Regions from separate parts of the Homo sapiens genome. Here region 1 is linked to region 2. Evidence: fine-mapped expression QTL. A gene starts in region 2. The other region holds a variant in brackets. All regions are shown on one strand. Distances are between the middles of the regions. Region 1 overlaps AK2 (adenylate kinase 2). Region 2 holds the start of AK2 (adenylate kinase 2).

Evidence for each region.
Region 1: its variant is fine-mapped to the expression of AK2 in whole blood (TOPMed, PIP above 0.99). The same link has a PIP of 0.9 or more in blood mononuclear cells.

What each region holds. Positions count from the first base shown.
Region 1 is chr1:33,007,641-33,017,669 of GRCh38, reverse strand. AK2 (adenylate kinase 2) reads left to right here. Exons shown (of 6, transcript NM_001625.4): 5 at 3,076-3,148; 6 at 4,268-9,684. The coding sequence ends at 4,489. Among named protein-coding and RNA genes, the nearest start is that of AK2, 24 kb to the left of the region's middle. The variant G/C (reference allele first, on the strand shown) is at 4,708.
Region 2 is chr1:33,032,152-33,042,180 of GRCh38, reverse strand. It overlaps AK2 (adenylate kinase 2), which reads left to right and starts at 5,298. Exons shown (of 6, transcript NM_001625.4): 1 at 5,298-5,445. The coding sequence starts at 5,353. RefSeq lists an enhancer at 5,320-5,479.

The DNA of each region.
Region 1 (10,029 bases), 25 kb after region 2:
GGTTGGTACTTGAGAGCAATCCCATTTTGAGAACTTGGAGAGTGGGGTTTCTTTCATTTACCTTCTGTGGAATGAGCCTTGTATTGTTTTAAAAAGTGGTATTTGTGAATGGCAAAAGAGCAGTGTGTGGGAGTCATATTTGTTGCAGCCTGGCTGCTATGTGCCCTGTGCTCTCTAGAAGGTAAAAAAATATCCTGGTCCGTATCTCATGCCCCTAGCCCCTCCCAAAGTTGCTGCAGCTGAGCCCAGCAGCCTGCTCTCTCCTTTCCCTGGGTCTCCCAGTGGATGCCATTTCTGAATGAATGCATCAGAGGAATCCTTCCAGGCACTCAAATAATGGAAGGTGCAACCTCACAGTACATGACTGCAGTCACAGGAACCTTTACTCCTCTGTCCAGTTGGCCTTCCATATCCATGGTTCCCTCATCTACGGATTCAAGCATTTGTGGATTAAAAATATTCAGAACAAAACCACCAATAAATATAACCCAGGAAAGCTGAAGAAAAGAAAAAATAATACAAATTTTAAAATTCAGTATATCAATTCTTTACATGGCATTTACATTGTATTAGGTATACATAATCTAGAGGTGATTTAAAGTATGCAAGACAACCAGCCTGGGCAACATAGTGAGACCTCATCTCTACAAAAAATTAAAAAACTAGACCGGGCGCGGTGGCTCACACCTGTAATCCTAACACTTTGGGAGGCCGAGGTGGGTGGATCACGAGGTCAGGAGTTCGAGACCAGCCTGGCCAACATGGTGAAACCCCGTCTCTACTAAAAATACAAAAAATTAGCCGGGCGTGGTGGCAGGCATCTGTAATCCCAGCTACTCAGGAGGCTGAGGCAGGAGAATTGCTTGAACCTGGGAGGCAGAGGTTGCAGTGAGCCGAGACCATGACACTGCACTCCAGCCTGGGCAACAGAATGAGACTCTGTCTCAAAAAATAATAATAAAATAAAATAAATTAATTAAATAAAATAAAAGAATTAGCCAGGCATGGTGGCGCATGCTTGTAGTCAGCTACTCCAGAGACTGAGGCGGGAGGGTCACTTGAGCCCAGTAGTTTGTGGTTACAGTGAACTATGGTCATTGCCATTGCACTCCAGCCTGGACAACAGAGCAAGACCATGTCTCAAAAAATAAAATAAATAGACCAGGCGCAGTGGCTCACACCTGTAATCCCAGCACTTCGGAAGGCTGAGGCAGGTGGATCACGAGGTCAGGAGATCGAGACCATCCTGGCTAACACGGTGAAACCCCGTTTCTACTAAATATACAAAAAATTAGCCAGGCTTGGTGGTGGGCGCCTGTAGTCCCAGCTACTTGGGAGGCTGAGGCAGGAGAATGGCGTGAACCCAGGAGGCGGAGCTTGCAGTGAGCAGAGACCGCGCCACTGTATTCCAACCTGGGTGACAGAGGGAGACTCTGTCTCAAAAATAAAATAAAAATAAAAGTACACAGGAGGATATGCATAGGTTATATGGAAATGCTGTACCATTTTATATCAGGGACTTGAGCATCTATGGATTTTGGTATCCACAGAGGGGGCTCCTGGAACCAATCCCCCCATGGATACCAAGGGATGACTCTATAGCTTATTTTCTCTACTGTCACCTCCCTCCTGCCCATAACCCAGTGCCACTTTATGCCAAATGGACCATCTTGTCCCCCCAAAATATGCTGTGATTAACAAAAAAGAAAGTAGCACATTTTACAGAGGTGCTACTTCAATAGTCTAAATAGAATTGAATAGAATTTTTATTTATTTTATTTTTTTGAGACAGTCTTGCTCTGTCACTCAGGCTGGAGTGCAGTGGTATGATCTCGGTTCACTGCAACCTCCACCCCCAGGTTCAAGCGATCCTCCTGCCTCAGCCTCCCAAGTAGCTGGGATTACAGGTGCCTGCCACCCAGCTAAATTTTTCATATTTTTAGTAGAAACGGGGTTTCGCCACGTTGGTCAGGCTGGTCTCGAACTCCTGACCTCAGGTGATCTGCCCCCCTCAGCCTCCCAAAGTGTTGGGATCACAGGCATAAGCTGCTGGGCCCGGCCCAAATATTGCTATGCCTGCCAAATGGTGAAAAATATTAGGGAGCTCTAGTCTAATAGACCTTCATGAGAAAAGCAACCATTAGTTAAATAAGCAAACAAACACTTGGTTGGCAGAGAATTGAGAAACCACAGAAGTGAAGCAAGGCCTGGCTGCTGAGCAGAGCTTGGCCTGCCTCCTTTCCTTAGGTTTCTAGGCTCCTGTGGTGTGGCCATTCCCAGTCAGGAACATGGGCTTGTTGTCTGTAGGGACTCAGCACAGATGCAGCTGCCCACTATACATTCAGTGCCAAATAAATGCCTGTTCTTGAGCTCTATATTCCATGACTTGTTTAATAAGTCATTTTTCCCGATTACTTGAATATTGCTCCATAAGGGTTAGGCTATCTTTTATCTGTGTGATTGAAAAGATGTGTTCCATTATCTGGCAGTGTTTGCATCCATGGGAATTATTTTTCCTGTTAGTACCTTCCTGGTTTTGTAACCAAACTAGGTTAGAAAATAGAGTTCATTTCTTTGTCCTCTGTCCCCCATAGCACTTTGTACAAATCTCTGTTAAAGGATTATCACGTTTGTTATTTATTTCCACATTTGTCTCTCCCACTAAGCACTACTTGTGAGCAGGGATCATTACTCATTGCTTTGTAGCTTCTGAATTCAGCTTAAGGCTTGAATGGAATACTTATTAATGTTTGTTAAGTAAATGGGTGAACAGAATGGATGGCTGTGTGAGACCAGCACCAGAGTTCCTTCTCTCAAGTCCTGAATTAGGTAGTTATGCCAGCAGTTTGCTCTTCAGCCAGATACTCATAATAATGTTTGGTCAAAATAGAAAATATACTCTGCCGCTGGCATAAGCTCTCCTGGAAGCCCAGTTATTTAGCTGGATTTTCTGCTGGGTGCTGGGTCCTTGCATCCAGCGTCCCTATCTCTGCTTGTCATTCTGGAGCCCCCTAGAGTGGAGTGCAGGCGCGTACTGTCAGTTAACCTAACTCATATTCATTTGCTGTCTTTCAGGCTGATTCACCCCAAGAGTGGCCGTTCCTACCACGAGGAGTTCAACCCTCCAAAAGAGCCCATGAAAGATGACGTATGTAAACTCAGGACAAAAAATTTCCTTTTCTTTCCTTCCCCTTTCTTCACTGTTTTTCTTTTTCCTTTATTCTTTCCATCTTCCTTTTATTTCTACCAATATTACTAACTTAGTCATGAAAAATAACACTATCAAGTAAATCACATGGCCTGTGTCAGATCTATTCAGTGTCTCCTCAGGTGGTTTATTGCTTGGCCTCAAGGTTGCTTCCAGTGGTGCTAGCTTTTTGCAGTGCCCAGATTGTACCTGTCTTCTGTCAAGAGCAGCCCCTTTTCTGGCATCATGGCCACCTAAGTGATCAGCTAATCAGGAGAAGCTTTCTTAAAAGCCTACAATTGGAGAGTGGGAAGAGTGTGGCACTGAAGAGAAGTTTGATGACCAGTCCTCCAGAAAAATATTCTTTTTATAGTTATTGCTGCTGTACTGTGTCCTGGGGTTTCATACATGGTCACTGCACCATTTGCCATAAAGAGTCTATATGGTTTGTTTTAAAGCATGCAGGCAACAGTAAGAATTTCCTGGGTTTACCTTTGTCCTATGAAACAAGTTCATCAGGTCATTCAGGTTCTATAAATACAGGTTCCAGAGCCGTTATGGCAACTTAGTCACATTTTGCAAAGTTGCTAATTCTACCATTGAAAGTTCTTATTTTACTTGCCACTTTTAGAATGTTGATGGGTGACACTCTAGTAAATACACTAAATATTTAAGCAACTAAGATTACAATTGCTAATGTATCTTTGATTTTGATGTATTCTGGTCTTAGGGGCCTTTTTGACTTCCTTACTTTTGACCCTAGAAGTGTTTATCTTGGAAGCTGAATCGCCTGAGCACAAAGATGAGAAAGTCATTGCCTATCTTCCCCTCATGAGCCCCTTTCCTCACAGTTGGTGTTTCTGACAAACTCTCTGACTTCTGTTCACCAGCTGCTCTGCTCCTGGGAGTAGCAAAGTTCTTCACTGGAGAGGGTCTGGATTGCCTGTCTTTGTCTCTGATGGGCTTTGGGAACAGACAGCATCCTGGGCAGAATGGTCCCATCTCAAATCTGCATCTGGCATGGAATAAGAAAACCTTGCTAACAGTCCCAGCCTTTCATTGCTGTCTTCCTGTTCTCAGATCACCGGGGAACCCTTGATCCGTCGATCAGATGATAATGAAAAGGCCTTGAAAATCCGCCTGCAAGCCTACCACACTCAAACCACCCCACTCATAGAGTACTACAGGAAACGGGGGATCCACTCCGCCATCGATGCATCCCAGACCCCCGATGTCGTGTTCGCAAGCATCCTAGCAGCCTTCTCCAAAGCCACATGTAAAGACTTGGTTATGTTTATCTAATGTTGGGTCCAAGAAGGAATTTCTTTCCATCCCTGTGAGGCAATGGGTGGGAATGATAGGACAGGCAAAGAGAAGCTTCCTCAGGCTAGCAAAAATATCATTTGATGTATTGATTAAAAAAGCACTTGCTTGATGTATCTTTGGCGTGTGTGCTACTCTCATCTGTGTGTATGTGTGTTGTGTGTGTGTGTGTGTGCATGCACATATGTGTTCACTCT[G/C]CTACTTTGTAAGTTTTAGGCTAGGTTGCTTTACCAGCTGTTTACTTCTTTTTTGTTGTTGTTTTGAGACAAGGTTTCGCTCTGCCACCCTGGCTGGAGTGCAGTGGCGTGATCTTGGCTCACGGCAACCTCTGCCTCCTGGGGCTCAAGCAATTATCCCACCTCAGCCTCCTGAGCAGCTGGGACTACAGGTGCATGCCACAACACCTGGCTGATATTTGTATTTTTTGTAGAGACAGGATTTTGCCAAGTTGCCCAGGCTGGTCTTGAACTCCTAGGCTTAAGCAATCCACCCACCTTGGCCTCCTGAAGTGCCAGGATCACAGACGTGAGCCACTACACCCAGCCCAGCTGTTTACTTCTTTAACCATACTTTTGATTTTATTTTTTGACCAAAATGAACTAACCCAGGTAATCTTCCAGGGACCGCAATTCCAGAACCTCATAGTATTTCTTCCATTTCCAGCAGCTGATTAGAAGTCCAGGATCATGTGAAGTCAGGCAGGGTCACAGTTCCTGATGGCACATTATGGACAGAGAATTCCATTTTGTTTTCTAACCCATGATGAAAACCCACGTGAGTCAGTGTGTGAACAGGGATCATTAATTTTTTCCCCCTAGGTGGAAGGAAAAAGGCACTTACTTTGCAGGTTACAGAAATTACTGGGAGAGGATATCGTCATAAAAAGAGCCAGGCCAAATTGGAATATTTTTGTGATCTGCATCATGATGCTGAAAATAGCAATTATTTGGGAATTGGGTTTGAAAACTGAATTGTTGCCAGAGAATTAAACCAGGTGAAAGGTCCTTTTGAATTCAGATTGTCTTCTGAACATCCAGGCTGATCATCTGAGAGCAGTCAAATCTACTTCCCCAAAAAGAGACCAGGGTAGGTTTATTTGCTTTTATTTTTAATGTTTGCCTGTGTTTCCAAGTGTGAACAAAACAGTGTGTGATCTATTCTTGGATTCATTTTGATCAGTATTTATTCAAACCCAGTCTCTCTCCAGGACATAAAACTGAAATCAGATATGTTCTTTTTAAGCCCAAACCCTCTCCTTTCTAGATCCAACCCTTCACCCCTAATTTTATGATGGCTATAGCCATGGACTTCCCCAAGAAAAGATCACCCAGAAATAAGACCACCTGTGACAGTTACCAGCTTTTATTCATAACCTTAGCTTCCCAACTATTGAGCATTTTCTAAGGTCCCTGCTGTCTTTTGGTCTCTGGTTTGATTTGTGGCAAACAGATGAAGTAACAGACTGCTATGAAGGACCACAAAAACGGCAGCCTCTGGAAAAACCATTAGAAAGTCAGTGGCAGATCCAGTAAATAATATCGCCAGCCTCAGCATAATCTGCTGCTGACTCGATTCAGTGGACTCTAAAGTGCCCAGCCTCCTGACCTGAGCTCTCCTGCCATCTGTGAGACTACCAGAGGTCTTATCTGCTGTCCACATGGCAACTGGGCATGAGTACCTGGCCACCTTGCTTCCCTCTTTGCCTGGTCCAAGTGAGTGTCTGCTGCCTCTGTCCTGCCTTGTTTTCCTGGCTCTAAACCAACTCCACCCACTCTTAATGGAAACTCAGTCTGGCTTTGTGTGTTTCTGGGAAGCACATGACTTCTGGGAATGGGCAAGGAAGAGGAGTGAAACAAAAACTGTCAGCTATGTGTGCCTGGTCTGGGATCCTTCTCTGGGTGACAGTGGCATCATGAATCTTAGAATCAGCTCCCCTTTAACTAGGGACAATTGTAAGCACTTGGCCTCAAAGTTGAGGTTCTTGAATGTTTGCTAATTTTATGTGCATGATCCTTGCCCAAATATTTGTCATCCGTCCACATAGATTCACGTGTGCATACAACATGTACAAGTAATATTTGGGCTGCCCATAAGAACTGGAAGATTCATAGGGAATGCATATACCCTTCTCAGTATGGTTAGGATTCTGTTTTTGCTTCATTTAATTCCAGAGTTCCTCAGCCTCAGCAGGTTCTGCTTTTACCTGTCACAGAAATGTCCAGTGTTTAATGCATTTGGTTGCTGGGGCTTACATGCCAGCCTCCTCTGATATGTACTTGGTTTTTAAAAACCCATTTTGTTCTCTCTTGTTTCCTCTCTATTTCAGCCTAGTATCAGAAGGCCAGGCGAGACTGCAACACTGCTCATCACCCCGCGGCGTGATCCCTGCTCTTAGGTGCTGGGCAGAGGGGAAGGGTGGTCAGGGTGAGGATGGTGAGGGAGGGCTGGTGAGGGGCTCAGAGGAATACTTGGAACAACAGCAGTGTTATTGTAGTGTGGCAGTTTCTTTTATACATAGGTGAGAGTTTTTAAAGTGTAAGGGAAAAATTAATTTTTTAAAAAACACCATGCTTGGAGGGTGGGGGTAGAAATAGACACAATATTATTTCTAAGGAATCGGGTTTTCATTTACTCTGGACTGGTGAAAATATTTTTTAAAGCCAGTGCTCTAAGACCTCAGCTTTTATCTCAGAACCCCATGGGTTCCAGACCAAGAGTACAGGAAATCAAATTGTTGTCCTGTCTGTCTATAGCTTGGAACAGGGAGCTTTGATTACTGACTCCGGTTCCACACACTGTAAGATCAAAAAACCATCTCCACATTTGAAAGAGATGTAAGGTGTATTCATAGGGATGGTGGCTCAACAAATCAAGCAAACTGGAATCAAGGGGAGGGGGAAGGGAATGAAATGGAAAGGGAGGCTGATTCCCTTCCCCTGACTTACCACTAATTTACTAGGCTACCTACTTTCATGAGTAACCTCTCACAGCTACCCAGCACATGCCACAATCCTATGCTCTTGCCTTCTTTTATCTGCACTGTGTGAAGGGACTCTTTTAAATAAATGAGCAAGTGTCCTAAGCTATGTCATCCAAAGATTGTCCTTTCCATTCTCAAATCCTGTGACTGGGATCACTCAACAGCACTGTGATGTATTATTTTCAATGAGGTGCCTTTCTTAACTGACCAAATGCTGCCTTGTTTGGCCCCTAAATCAATAAAATATGTTAAAATTTGTATCCCCTGTTGTGGCATTTTTTTTAGATAATCTAAGCTAGAAAAATGACATTGAATTCTGGACCTGGCTGGAAGGAAAAGAAGCCCTTTCTTGTCGCTGGCAGCTGTGTGGTAGGGAGGTCCAAGTATGTGCATATGAGATAAGCCTGCAACCTCTTGACCTTCAGCTCCTATGCAGGCTTCTCTTGAGCCCAGAGACAAGGCAGCTTGGTCTAGTGGAGATAGCACTGTGCTTGGAGTTCAGGGGACCTAGGACAAATCCCAGCCAGTTAGTTATTCACTGTGCTCCTGTTTCCTCAGCTGAAAAAGGAAGTTGGTTATGCCACCTTCTTGGCCTTAATGGCATTAAATGAAATTTATAGGAAGAAGGTTTTTGCTCAGTACCTGGCATGCAACAGACATTGGATAAATGTTAGTTGGATCCAGATATACACAGAAAGATATCTGCTTCCTGCCAGGCTGGATAACTGTTGAATGGACACTTGTCCATAGTCTAGAAAGCCAGTGCTTCTAATCCTTAAGCCAGATCTTTGACTACCTTTTCAGTTGCTTCTTTAACACTCTTTGTTGCTTCTCTGTGTGTCCTAGTTTAAATTCATTTCCTCTCCAGCAAAAGTGAGCTTAAATAATTTCTCCAAACTAAAGCTCTCATGTTTTTGGAAGGGCTGCCTTTGCAAGTGAGGTTTCTGAGAAATGACTGTTGTTCCCAAAACAAGAGGGAGCTGGGCTGGAAGCACCACTATTCTTCTTTAGGCATCTTGTTACAGAGAGAGGCAGGGTCTTCACTGACATATTAAATCCTGTTCCCTGAACCAGCCCCTCCCTCTTCTGCTCCACTTCCTCACCTGTGCAGAGTCATTTTCAGGTGTTAGCCTTACTGATTTGCACTGATCTGTTTGTTCCCTGAGCTTTTTAAATACCCTGTGAAAATTTTCTTTCCTCCCTTGGTCATCATGCATCTAATTGTGGGGAAATGTTTGTCAAACCAACCTGCAAAGCAGCATGGTGTAGTTGAGAAGAATAAACAGAGAAGACTGGGTGAGCTATTGTTTGTTTGCTTCTTTGGGCCTGGGTTTCCTCATCTAATCTGCAAACCAAGAATGCAGACTAGTCCTACCACTCCCGGAAGACTGACGTTGTGCCAGGTATTATGCAAAGGCTTCATGTAACCCTCGACTTCACGTAACCCTCACACAGCACCCTGTGGAGTCAGAACTGTCCTTCACTTTTATAGGTGAGGAAACCAGACTCAGAGAGGTGAAGTGGCATTCCTGAGGTCATGCATAAGAGGCAGTCAGGACTGAAACACAGTCTCTAACACTTATCCGTCCCCTTGATCTTGTTGCTGAAGTGATTTAATTACTTGCGTAGCTCTGCACACAGGAAGGGCTGCTCTGAATAAGAGCTCTTTTCCATGGACACTCAGCGCTGCCGGAACTGATTTTGAAGAAGTCACTGCCGGCTCTGAGGGCCTAGGGTATGTGTCTTAGGATCTCCTGTGTGCACAAAGTGTCACTGACAGAACACAGCAGGATGGAGAGCAGCCTCCTCAGAAGCCTCACAAGTCTTTCCTCAGATGAAGACAGAGCAACGAGTCAGAAGACAGATTTCAACAGCGACTTCACCATGCGACCTTGGACAAGTTATCTCACCTCATCAGTAGAATAGGAATGATCCCTACCCCTCAAAGGTGCTGATGACACTAGTGACCAAGATACTCATGTGGGTTGGACTGCCCAGGACACAGCAGATGCTTAGTAAACACAGATGGAATTCAGAGGGAAAATGTAGGCATTGAAGAAAGTTGTCTTACTGACCATCCGGAACCAGGCTAAGGATCCCCTAGAAATCATAGACCTCTGAAATTATATGCAGAATTCTTTATGTGTTTTCATAATTAATAATAGTCTAACATATTAAATTCTTAGCTGTGTGAGAGGTTCTGCATGCATTATCTCATTTATTCTCCTCGATAACCCTGTGGAGGTAAGTATTGCTATTATCTCTATGGTATGTCTGTAGACTTTGAGATTCAGACATCTGATAATGGCAGAACCAGAGCCTGAGTCCAAGTCTGGCTCCACACCCCAGCCTCTTAACACTGTGCCAATTGCTTTGACACTTTGCTGGGGAGAGATGAAATGATCTCAAAGGCACTCATGATACAGAAAAGGCTATGAGCCATGGATCCAAACAAAAGGAGAAACTCAAGTAGGTTTGCTCTGTTACAGTGAAGGACCTGCCACAGGTAAGACCTTTTTCTATTTTGCCATCCTCCGTT
Region 2 (10,029 bases):
CACCTCCTTGGTTCAAGGGATTCTCGTGCCTCAGCCTACTGAGTAGCTGGGATTACAGGTGCCCGCCACCACGCCCAGCTAATTTTTGTATTTTTAGTAGAGATGGGGTTTCATCATGTTGGCTAGGCTGGTCTTGAACTCCTGACCTCAAATGATCCGCCCACCTCAGTCTCCCAAAGTGCTGGGATTACAAGCGTGAGCCACTGTGCCTGACCAATCATAGTCCTCTCTGGGAGGGCTAGACTGTGGGAAATGTATTAATAGAACATGGAGGAAGAGGGCAAAAAATCGTGCTTCTTAAGGGCAGGCACATTTGAAAGAGAAAAAAGGAGGAAGAGCTGAGTTGTGCTCAGTTCATTCTTCCCATACTCACTAATGAGATACAGGTTGAGTATCCCTAATCCAAAGTGCTTGGGACCAGCAGTATTTCAGATTTTGGATCATTTTCAGATTTTGGAATATTTGCATATACTTAATGAGATATCTTGGGGATGGGAACCAAGTCTAAATATAAATTCATTTATGTTTTATATAGACCTTATACACATAACCTGAAGGTAATTTTATACAATATTTTTAATAATTCTGTGCACAAAACCAAGTTTGTGTATACTGAATCATGGGAAAACAAAAGTGTCACTTAGACACCCCTCTGGAAAATCTGTGGTTGTTCGGCGTCACCATCATTCATGACTCTGAATTTATATGCTGTATCATTTTTCTTACACTTATTCACATTTATCAGTTAAAAAAAAAGACCATTAATACAGTGAAAAAGTAATGTGTTCAGGGTAAGTAAGCAGCATAGTAGCATCATCAAAATAATACCTGGAGATGCTGAAAAAACTGTGTTGTATGTCTGTGTTTTGACTGCAACCTGTCACGTGAGGTCAGGTGTGGATTTTTGTCTTTTTTCTTTTTTTTTTTTTCAGAGACAAGGTTGCTCTGTCACTCAGGCTGCAGTGCAGTGACACCATCATACCTGGCTGTAGCCTTGAACTCCTGGGCTCATGCAATCCTTCCACCTCAACCACAGTGGCACAATCATACCTGGCTGCAGCCTTGAATTCCTGGACTCAAGCAATCTTTCCACCTCAACCTCCCAAGTAGCTGGGACTACTGGAGTGCACCATCATGCCTGGCTAATTTTATTATTAGTAGAGACCAAGTCCAGGCTGGTCTCAAACTCCTGGCCTCAGGCAATTCTCCCACCTCAGCCTCCCAAAGCGCTGGGATTACAGGTGAGAGCCACCACACCACCTGTTAGTGTGGAATTTTCTTTCTTTCTTTCTTTCTTTTTTTTTGATACGGAGTCTCGCTCTGTAGCCCAGGCTGGAGTGCAGTGGCGCAATCTTGTCTCACTGCAACCTCTGCCTCCCAGGTCCTGGTTCAAGCAATTCTCCTGCCTCAGCCTCCCAAGTAGCTGGGATTACAGGCATGCGCCACCATGCCCAGCTAAGTTTTCTATTTTTAGTAGAGATGGGGTTTTGCCATGTTGGCCAGGCTCATCTCGAACTCCTGACTTCAGGTGATCCGCCCGCCTTGGCCTCCCAAAGTGTTATAGGCGTGAGCCACCACACCTGGCCTACTTATTCCTTATATCTAGATTACCCAACGCAGCCCTGGCTCCTATCACTTCCAAGGCCTGTGGTTGTACAACTGAATCCTCTCAGCGAATTTTGTTTTTGCTTGATGTAGCTAGAGTCTGTTTCTATTGCTTGTATCCAAAGAATATGTACTAGTTTCCTATGGCTGCTAGTTTCCAATTACCACAAACTTGGTGGTCTATATGAACGGAAATTTATTACCTTAAAGTTTTGGAGGTCAGGAGTTCAAAATAGGTCGTATGGGGCTAAAATCAAAATATCTTCAGGGTCATGTTCCTTTGGAGACTCTAGGGGAGAACCCATTTCCTTGCCTTTTCTGACTTCAGAGGCTACCATCATTTTGTAACTGAAAAGCAGGTTAGTTGCTCACAACATTCAGAGTCCAGTTAAAAAGAGCAAGGTCTGGGACGAAAAAATGAATTTATTTTGAAGCTAGCTTGTGGAAATGGCACGAAGCATCCTGCCTTAAATGTGCCACTTCCCTTTTGGAGCAGAAAGCGGGCCTTTTATAAGGTGGTGGGAGGAAGTAAGCAGGGGGAGGGCGTCTCCGTTAGCTCTGGTGGCTTAACTGCTGGGCAGTTGACTTAGTGCCTTCCTGGGCAGAAGTAAGTTATAAAAGTGGCCAAGTGGACACGCTTTCAACATTCCCTCTTGGTAGGTGTGAGTTCGAAGCAATCCCCCAGAGGGTAGAAGTTCCAAGGTGAAAGTTCCCTAGCGGGCATGCTTTGCTCTGTTAACTTTCCAAGAATTAGATGAACTTGCCTTGAAGGGAGTGTCTGGTGAAGAAGTTGGTAAAATTTCTTCTTTAGAAATTCAAAGAAATTCAAAGATTAAATCAGAAGTGGGAGCAGGAAGAAAGGAGAAGAGAAAATAAATTTTAAAAGGAACTGGCCGGACACGGTGGCTCACTCCTGTAATCCCAGCACTTTGGGAGGCCCGAGACAGGCGGATCACCGGAGGTCAGGAATTTGAGACCAGCCTGGCCAACATGGTGAAACCCCATCTCTACTGAAAATACAAAAGTTAGCCGGGGGTGGTAGGGGCGCCTGTAATCCCAGCTATTCACGAGGCTGAGGCAGGAGAATCTCTTGAACCCAGGAGGCGGAGGTTGCAGTGAGCAGAGATTGCACCACTGCACTCCAGCCTGGGTGACAGAGTGCGGCTCCTTCTCAAAAAAGAAAAAAAAAAGACTTAACTTGTGATTCATTACACTTCAAAGTGTATTGAATAAATCTTACACTTTGTGTCTTTATGGATAGTCTTCCTTACTTTCCCTCCTGGGAGCCCTAAGTCTTGTCACAATCACTATAGGGATTGATGGTAGAAAGGGAAGGCTGCTCCTACTCCCCTTGCCTGGTCCCTGTGCATAGAAAATTTCAATAAACTCTGGTCTTATTGGACTGAAGTGAATTTTGGCCACAGAGAGGCTTCCTGCAGCTTGTTTTCCCATCCCTCTGCCCATAAGCCCTGTAATCTCTAGGGCACCTGCTTGTCATCCTCAGTTGTTTTTGTTTTTGTTTTCAGAGTCTTGCTCTGTCACCCAGCCTGGAGTGTAGTGGTGCCATCTCAGCTCACTGCAACCTCCACCTCCCGGGTTCAAGCGATACTCCTGCCTCAGCCTCCCTAATAGCTGGGATTACAGGCATGCGCCACCACACTGGGCTAATTTTTTTGTAATTTTAGTAGAGACGGGGTTTCGCCATGTTGGCCAGGCTGGTCTCGAACTCCTGACCTCAGGTGATCTGCCCCCCCCTCAGGCTCTCAAAGTGCTGGGATTACAGGCGTGAGTCACTGGACCTGGCTCATCCTCAGTCTTAATTGTGAGTCTGCTACTGTGTGACTTTGGTCACTACGTATCTTCAGGCCTCAGCTTCCATTCTGAATAATAGACATAACAATCCTTTCTTCCTTCAATGTCATTGGGAGTATCCAACAAGATTAAGCAGGTACACTGTAAAAGTCCAGCGTGGCGATGAGAAATGAATGTTGACTTCTGTGTGGTAAGGAAGAGACCACAGCTGGGCTGGGCACAGTGGCTCACGCCTGTAATCCCAGCACTTTGGGAGGCCCAGGCGCGCGGATCACGAGGTCAGGAGATCAAGACCATCCTGACTAACACGGTGAAATCCCGTGTCTACTAAAAGTATAAAAAAAATTAGCCAGGCGTGGTGGTGGGCACCTATAGTCCCAGCTACGCAGGAGGCTGAGGCAGGAGAATGGCGTGAACCCAGGAGGTGGAGCTTGCAGTGAGCCGAGATCGCGCCACTGCACTCCAGCCTGGGCAACAGAGCGAGACCACGTCTCAAAAAAAAAAAAAAAAAGAAGAGACCACAGCTGAAGGGATAGCAAATTCATCATCAAGATGTAGAAAATGAGTTGTTAGGAGCCTGTGGGGAAACATAATCGTTTCATTACACACTCTTAACTAAAGGTCCAAAGAGGCCCTTGGAGCTGGATGAAACTTTCACACACCAAAAAGCTGTAGAAATTATTTCCCTATCCAAGAGGGTCATCTCTTTTGAGAAAAACTATCTTTTCCTGACTTTAAAAGGTTAACGTTTTTCTTAATATAAAGGTAAAACTTGTTTTAAACTTAAGTTTTTAAACTTATTAAGAATTTACCATAGAACTTTAAAAAATCTATTAAAATATACAAAGGAGAGGTGCTCCTCTAATCACACTACACAGCGGTCTACACTTGTAATAAACAAAATCGGGATTTTTTGGGGGGGGAGTGGGACGGAGTTTCACTCTTGTTGCCCAGGCTGGAGTGTAATGGCTCAATCTTGGCTCACTGTAACCTCCGCCTCCTGGGTTCAAGCAGTTCTCCTGCCTCAGCCTCCCAAGTAGCTGGGATTACAGGCATATGCCACCACTCCCAGCTAATTTTGTATTTTCAGTAGAGATGGGGTTTCATCATGTTGGTCAGGCTGGTCTCGAACTTCTGACCTCAGGTAATCCGCTCGCCATGGTCTCCCAAAGTGTGGGGATTACAGGCGTGAGCCACCGCGTCCGGCCAAAATTCGGATTTTGTTGTAACTGCAATTTTGTATCTCGCTTTGCTAACATTTTCCCGCATGATTAAATTATCTTATACAACAGGGGTATTCCAGGATACAAATTGGTTGCAATTTATTTAACCAATCTCTTATTGTTGGACATTTGGAGTATTGCCTTTATTTTATGGTTTTTCTCGGGCTTTTGGGCTAAGTGTTGCAATTAACAACTTTGTTACACGAATCTTTACTCATATCCTTGATTTTATCCATTGAATTCGTGGAAGTGGAATTGCTGGACCAAAGGGTATTTGAAACATATTACTAATTTGTCTTCTAAGAGTGATTTTACCCATTTAAACTCCCACGCGCAATTTAATAGGATTTCAATGTTGTTGCTGGTGTCGTCAACTGTCAAATGCCGAAGTATACCTTCCGGCCTGACCTCCTGTCCTCCTTCGCGTTTTCCCGCCCACTCCGCACACCCGCCACCCTTAGTACATGCTGGCCCGCCCCTTCCTTATCCCGCACCAATTCTGTCCAATCAAAAGCAAAGTTCCTCAGTATCGCCGTGCAGTTGGTAAGGTGAAGAGTCCGTCGTGCTCAGGGGCGGGCGGAACGGGCTGACGGACGCGGCTATGGGCCAGTGTGAGCGGCGAGTGGGACGTGCGTGGCGTGCGTGCGTTGACCTGGGAAGCACTGGACCTGTGAGGCGTGCGAACTGGTGGCAGTGAGAGACTTCGGCGGACATGGCTCCCAGCGTGCCAGCGGCAGAACCCGAGTATCCTAAAGGCATCCGGGCCGTGCTGCTGGGGCCTCCCGGGGCCGGTAAAGGGACCCAGGTGAGCGGCAGGACTGGGCTTGGCGGCGGAGCCTGCTGAACTCCAAGGTCAAGGCGGCCGGAGATCTAGAAGCCCTGGACCTGCCCGGAGCGGGCCGGGGACTAAGGCCTGCGGGGAACGCTGGCCGGGGTCTCGGTTCTGGTGGGGCATTTCGGAGAGGGTCCAAATTGGAGGTCGGGGCAGTCTGAGTTAGGATTGGAGTGCCCGAGGGATTCAGTGTTGAAGTGTTGGGTTAGGGAATGTGAGGGCTGATTAATTCCACTAAGGGTCTAGAGACTGGAAAGGTTTGAGGGGTAGAGTGAGCCCTGGGCCGAGGCATCTAGATTACAGGCTGAATGGAGGCAATTAGCTTTATGGCCCAGGTTACCTGCGAGTTGGAGGTGAATTGTCCAGAATCAGGGTTACATTCCAGGCACTGGAGGTCGGGAGATTTTGATAATGATTTATGACTTAGGGGGAGGGGAGGAGAAGCATCTCCAACACGTGGGGCAGAGTGAGAGGTGACATGTGCTGTGTGAGCCAGTTGAATTGAGATGGGAGGAAACCTAAGGCTCTCCCTGTTTGAAAGTTGGGGGTGAATGTGTAGAACTGGTTTATAGCCTGGAGACCCATGAGTCGCAACCTTTGAGTAGTGTCCACAATAAGGGTTGGGAGTGCTCATGGGACCTGGCTTGGAGTTAGGACCTGAGGCTACTGAAGGCTAAGCAGCTTGGGATGACGCAAATGATTTTAGATGAAAAGGAACTTGAATTTTTTTTTATTTTGTTTTTATTATTTTTGTTTGTTTGTATCTTCCTTCCCTTTGGTTTTTATTTATTTTTTCCTTTTTTTATTTTGTTGTTGTTTATAGGGAACTTGAAATTTTAACTTTATCAATCAACAGGTTAAAAAACAGGCCCAGAAAGGTCAGGTGGCTTTCCCAAATTAGTGAAATGAGTTTCATGAGCCTGAGACCTCAGGAACCATGGAGTTAGAGTCTGAAGTTACCATCTGCCCTAGCAGGCAACAGGGGCCTCACTTGGGATCTGGGCCCCTTCTAGATCTGGGACATAATGGGGCCATAGATTAGGGTTGGGATCGATGATCTCATTTCGGATTTGGAAGCCCGCAGGTTGGATTATTGATGTCCCCTTCTTGCTTGGGGTCTGGCATTGCACCTGGGGCCCTAAGCCTCTGGCTCTTGCCTGTTGTTAGGCTTCAAAGAGGGAAGTCTGAGCTCCCAAATGAAAGGGAATCTGAGGACTGCCCTGTGCCCGCTTTTCTCTTCCTAGCACTTGCCAAGTTTTAAAAATCTTGGCAAACAGACCATCTTACTCATTCTTGGTACCCCTTGTGGCACCTAGCACATTACTTGGCCCTTGATGGGGTTAGTGGAAGTGGATGAATGTCACAGATTAATGTGGGTGATAAAGAAAGAAGTTCTGGAACACTCCATTCATTCCTGTGACCTGGGCACTAAGTCAGAAAATACAGCTTTCTTTTCTCTCCACAGACTGAGATGATTCTTCTTTGGAGCTTACCTGTACCTGATCCCTTTATCCTTTATCCTCAGCGTTGTTGACATCTCTTTCCTGTTGCTGCCACACTCATTTATTGGGTAATCTGCAGCTTAGGGAAGTTTAATCTTAGACTCTGCAGACTTTTGCTGTGAGTGATCAAGTATAAACAGTAGCTCAAATGCTTCATTGTTTTTCTTTTTCTTTTTCTTTTTTTTGAGACAGGGTCTCACTCTGTTGCCCAGGTTGGAGCGCAGTGGTGTGAGCTCAAGCAATCCTCCCACCTCACCCTCCCAGGTAGCTGGGAGTACAGGCACATGCTACCATGCCCAGCTAATTTTTAAACAATTTTTTGTAGAGACAGGGTCTTGCTATGTTGCCCAGGCTGGTATTGAACTCCTGGACACAGGCGATCATCCTGCCTTGACCTCCCAAAGTGCAGGGATTATAGGCACAAGCCACTATGCCCTGAGATTTTTTTCTTAACTCATATTGAAGTTAATAATTTCAGTAATTATGGAATGGACAACCTATACTAGTATAGTACTGGGACAAGGGTTTTATAATTTAGCTAGCTATGTAACTTCCGAGCCTCAGTGTTCTTACCTGAAAAATGGGGATAATACCTACCTTGCTCATTCAGCATTTCATGAGCACCTAACATTGGGGATATAAAGCATTGGGCAAGACTGATAAAGTTCTTGCCCTCATCAACTAAACATTCACAATGATACTGGAAAATTATGATATATGTGTGTGTGTGTGTGTGTGTGTGTGTGTGTGTGTGTGTATCAAGCACCCACAACCTAGATGACAGCCTGCTATATAGTAGGTACTCAATAAATTTTGACTCCCTTTTATCTTAGTAACACATCTCCCTTCCCCTCCTTCAACTTGGATGTTTCAGTGTAAGACATGATTTATTCAGGAAGTTTAGAAGAACATTATACTAATGAGTTGATTGATAAGGGTGCATGAAGATGAGAGTTGGTCAGAGAAGGCTTTGTAGAAATAGAGGAGATGTGATTAGAGCTGGGAGTTGAAAGGATAAGATTTACACAAGTCATTTAACCTCTGTACACTTTCCAGAGTTGTAACAATAGGAATACTGGTGATTGTATGTATTTTTGTGGAGTTTAAAAAAAAGTTCAAGCCTGGGCAACATGGCGAAACCCCATCTCTACAAAAAAATGCAAAAATTAGCCAGGCATGGTGGTGTGTGCCTGTAGTCCCAGCTATTCAGGAGGCTGAGGTGGGAGGATCACTTGAGCCTTGGAGGCAGAGTTTGTAGTGAGCTGGGATCTCACCATTGCGCCCCAGCCTGGGCAACAGAGTGAGACTTTGTCTCAAAAAAAAAAGATCTTAAATCAGACTTTACAAATGGTAGCCTACAATAACATTTAGCCTGCAGAGACATCTCATACACCTTAACTTTTTATTATGAAGAATTTTGAATACACAAAAGAAGACAGGATGGCATAATGAGCCCTTACCCAGCCCCAACCATTAACTGGTGGCCTTCGCTCCTCTAGCCATTCTCCCTTCACAAATTATTATAAAGCACCTCCCAGGCATCATAACATTTCATTTGTAAATAATATTAGTATGTATTGCTAAAAGATAATTTTTAAAAACATAAGCATAATATCCTTTAAAAAATCAACAATTTTTATTCAAATTTTCTTTTGTGTTACCAATGTGATAATTTTAAGTTTCTTTTATTTATTTATTTTTTTACAGACAAAGTCTTGCTCAGTTGCCCAAGCTGGAGTGTAGTAGCCCAATCATAGCTCACGGCAGCCTCAGTCCTCCCACCTCAGCTTCCTGAATAGCTGGGATTACAGGTGCATGCCACCATGCCTGGCTAACTTTTCTAGTGTTTTAAAGATGGGGGTCCTGCCATGTTGCTCAGGCTGGTCTTGAACTACCGGGCTCCTCCCTCAGCCACCCAAGTAGCTGGGACTACAGGCATGTGCCACTGTGCCCATCCTTTCTTTTAATTTATAAGTTCCCCTTCTCTTTTTTTCCTGGGGTTTTGCCGAAGAAATTGGATTATTTTTCTTTTCTTTTTTTTTTTTTTGAGACAGAGTCTCGCTCTGTTGCCCAGGCTGGAGTGCAGTGGTGTGATCTTGGCTCACTGCAAGCTCTGCTTCCCGGATTCACGCCATTCTGCCTCAGTCTCCCGAGTAGCTGGGACTACAGGTGCCTGCCACCACACCCGGCTAATTTTTTGTATCTTTAGTAGAGACGGGGTTTCACTGTGTTAGCCAGGATGGTCTCGATCTCCTGACCTCATGATCCGCCCACCTTGGCCTCCCAAAGTGTTGGGATTATAGCCGTGAGCCATCATGTCCAGCCCCAGAAATTGGATTATTTTTCCTGGGAGTATTATACCACTCTCTGGGAATTTTCAGTTGTATTCCCCTGGTGTACTTAACATCTTCCTCTGCCCTCTCTATTTCCTGTAAATTGGTGGTTTATACTTAATTAGTATATACTTAATTCAATTTAGGTTCAATTTTTTGGCCCAACTACTTCACAGGTGGTGGGTGCTGTGCTCTCCCTGAGGAGGCACATGGTATTTCCTTGTCTCTGGTGTTTATAGTCATGCTGTTCAGTGTCTAGGTTCAGTAATTCGTTATGGATGGTGAAATGGTGGTATTCTAATTATATTGTTCCCTGGTCATTTATTAGCTGAAATATTTCTATAAAGAGAAACTTCCCCTCATCTACTGTTTCGTTACCCCGTGATATGGTTGGTATAGAAAAGTCAGGATAAATGCTTGATTTATTCTCTTTGTCAGCTTTCAAAATAGTAGGTTGACCACAGAGCGTTTTCGGTTATGCAATTTCTCTTAAAAATCCAGAGCTCCAGTTTCTCTTGAGAAACCAGAAGACCTGGCAGTGATGCCTCCATTCCAGTGTGGCAGCAGTCACTTGCAGTTGTGTGGCATTGCTGCTTTGGATGGTCTGTGTGTCTTCCTGTCCCCTGCACGGTCCTCTTCACTGCCCATTGCTTACATTTGACTCATTTCATACAGTTGCATTGCCTGCTTGGCTCCCACTGGCAGATGTTTGCAATCTTACA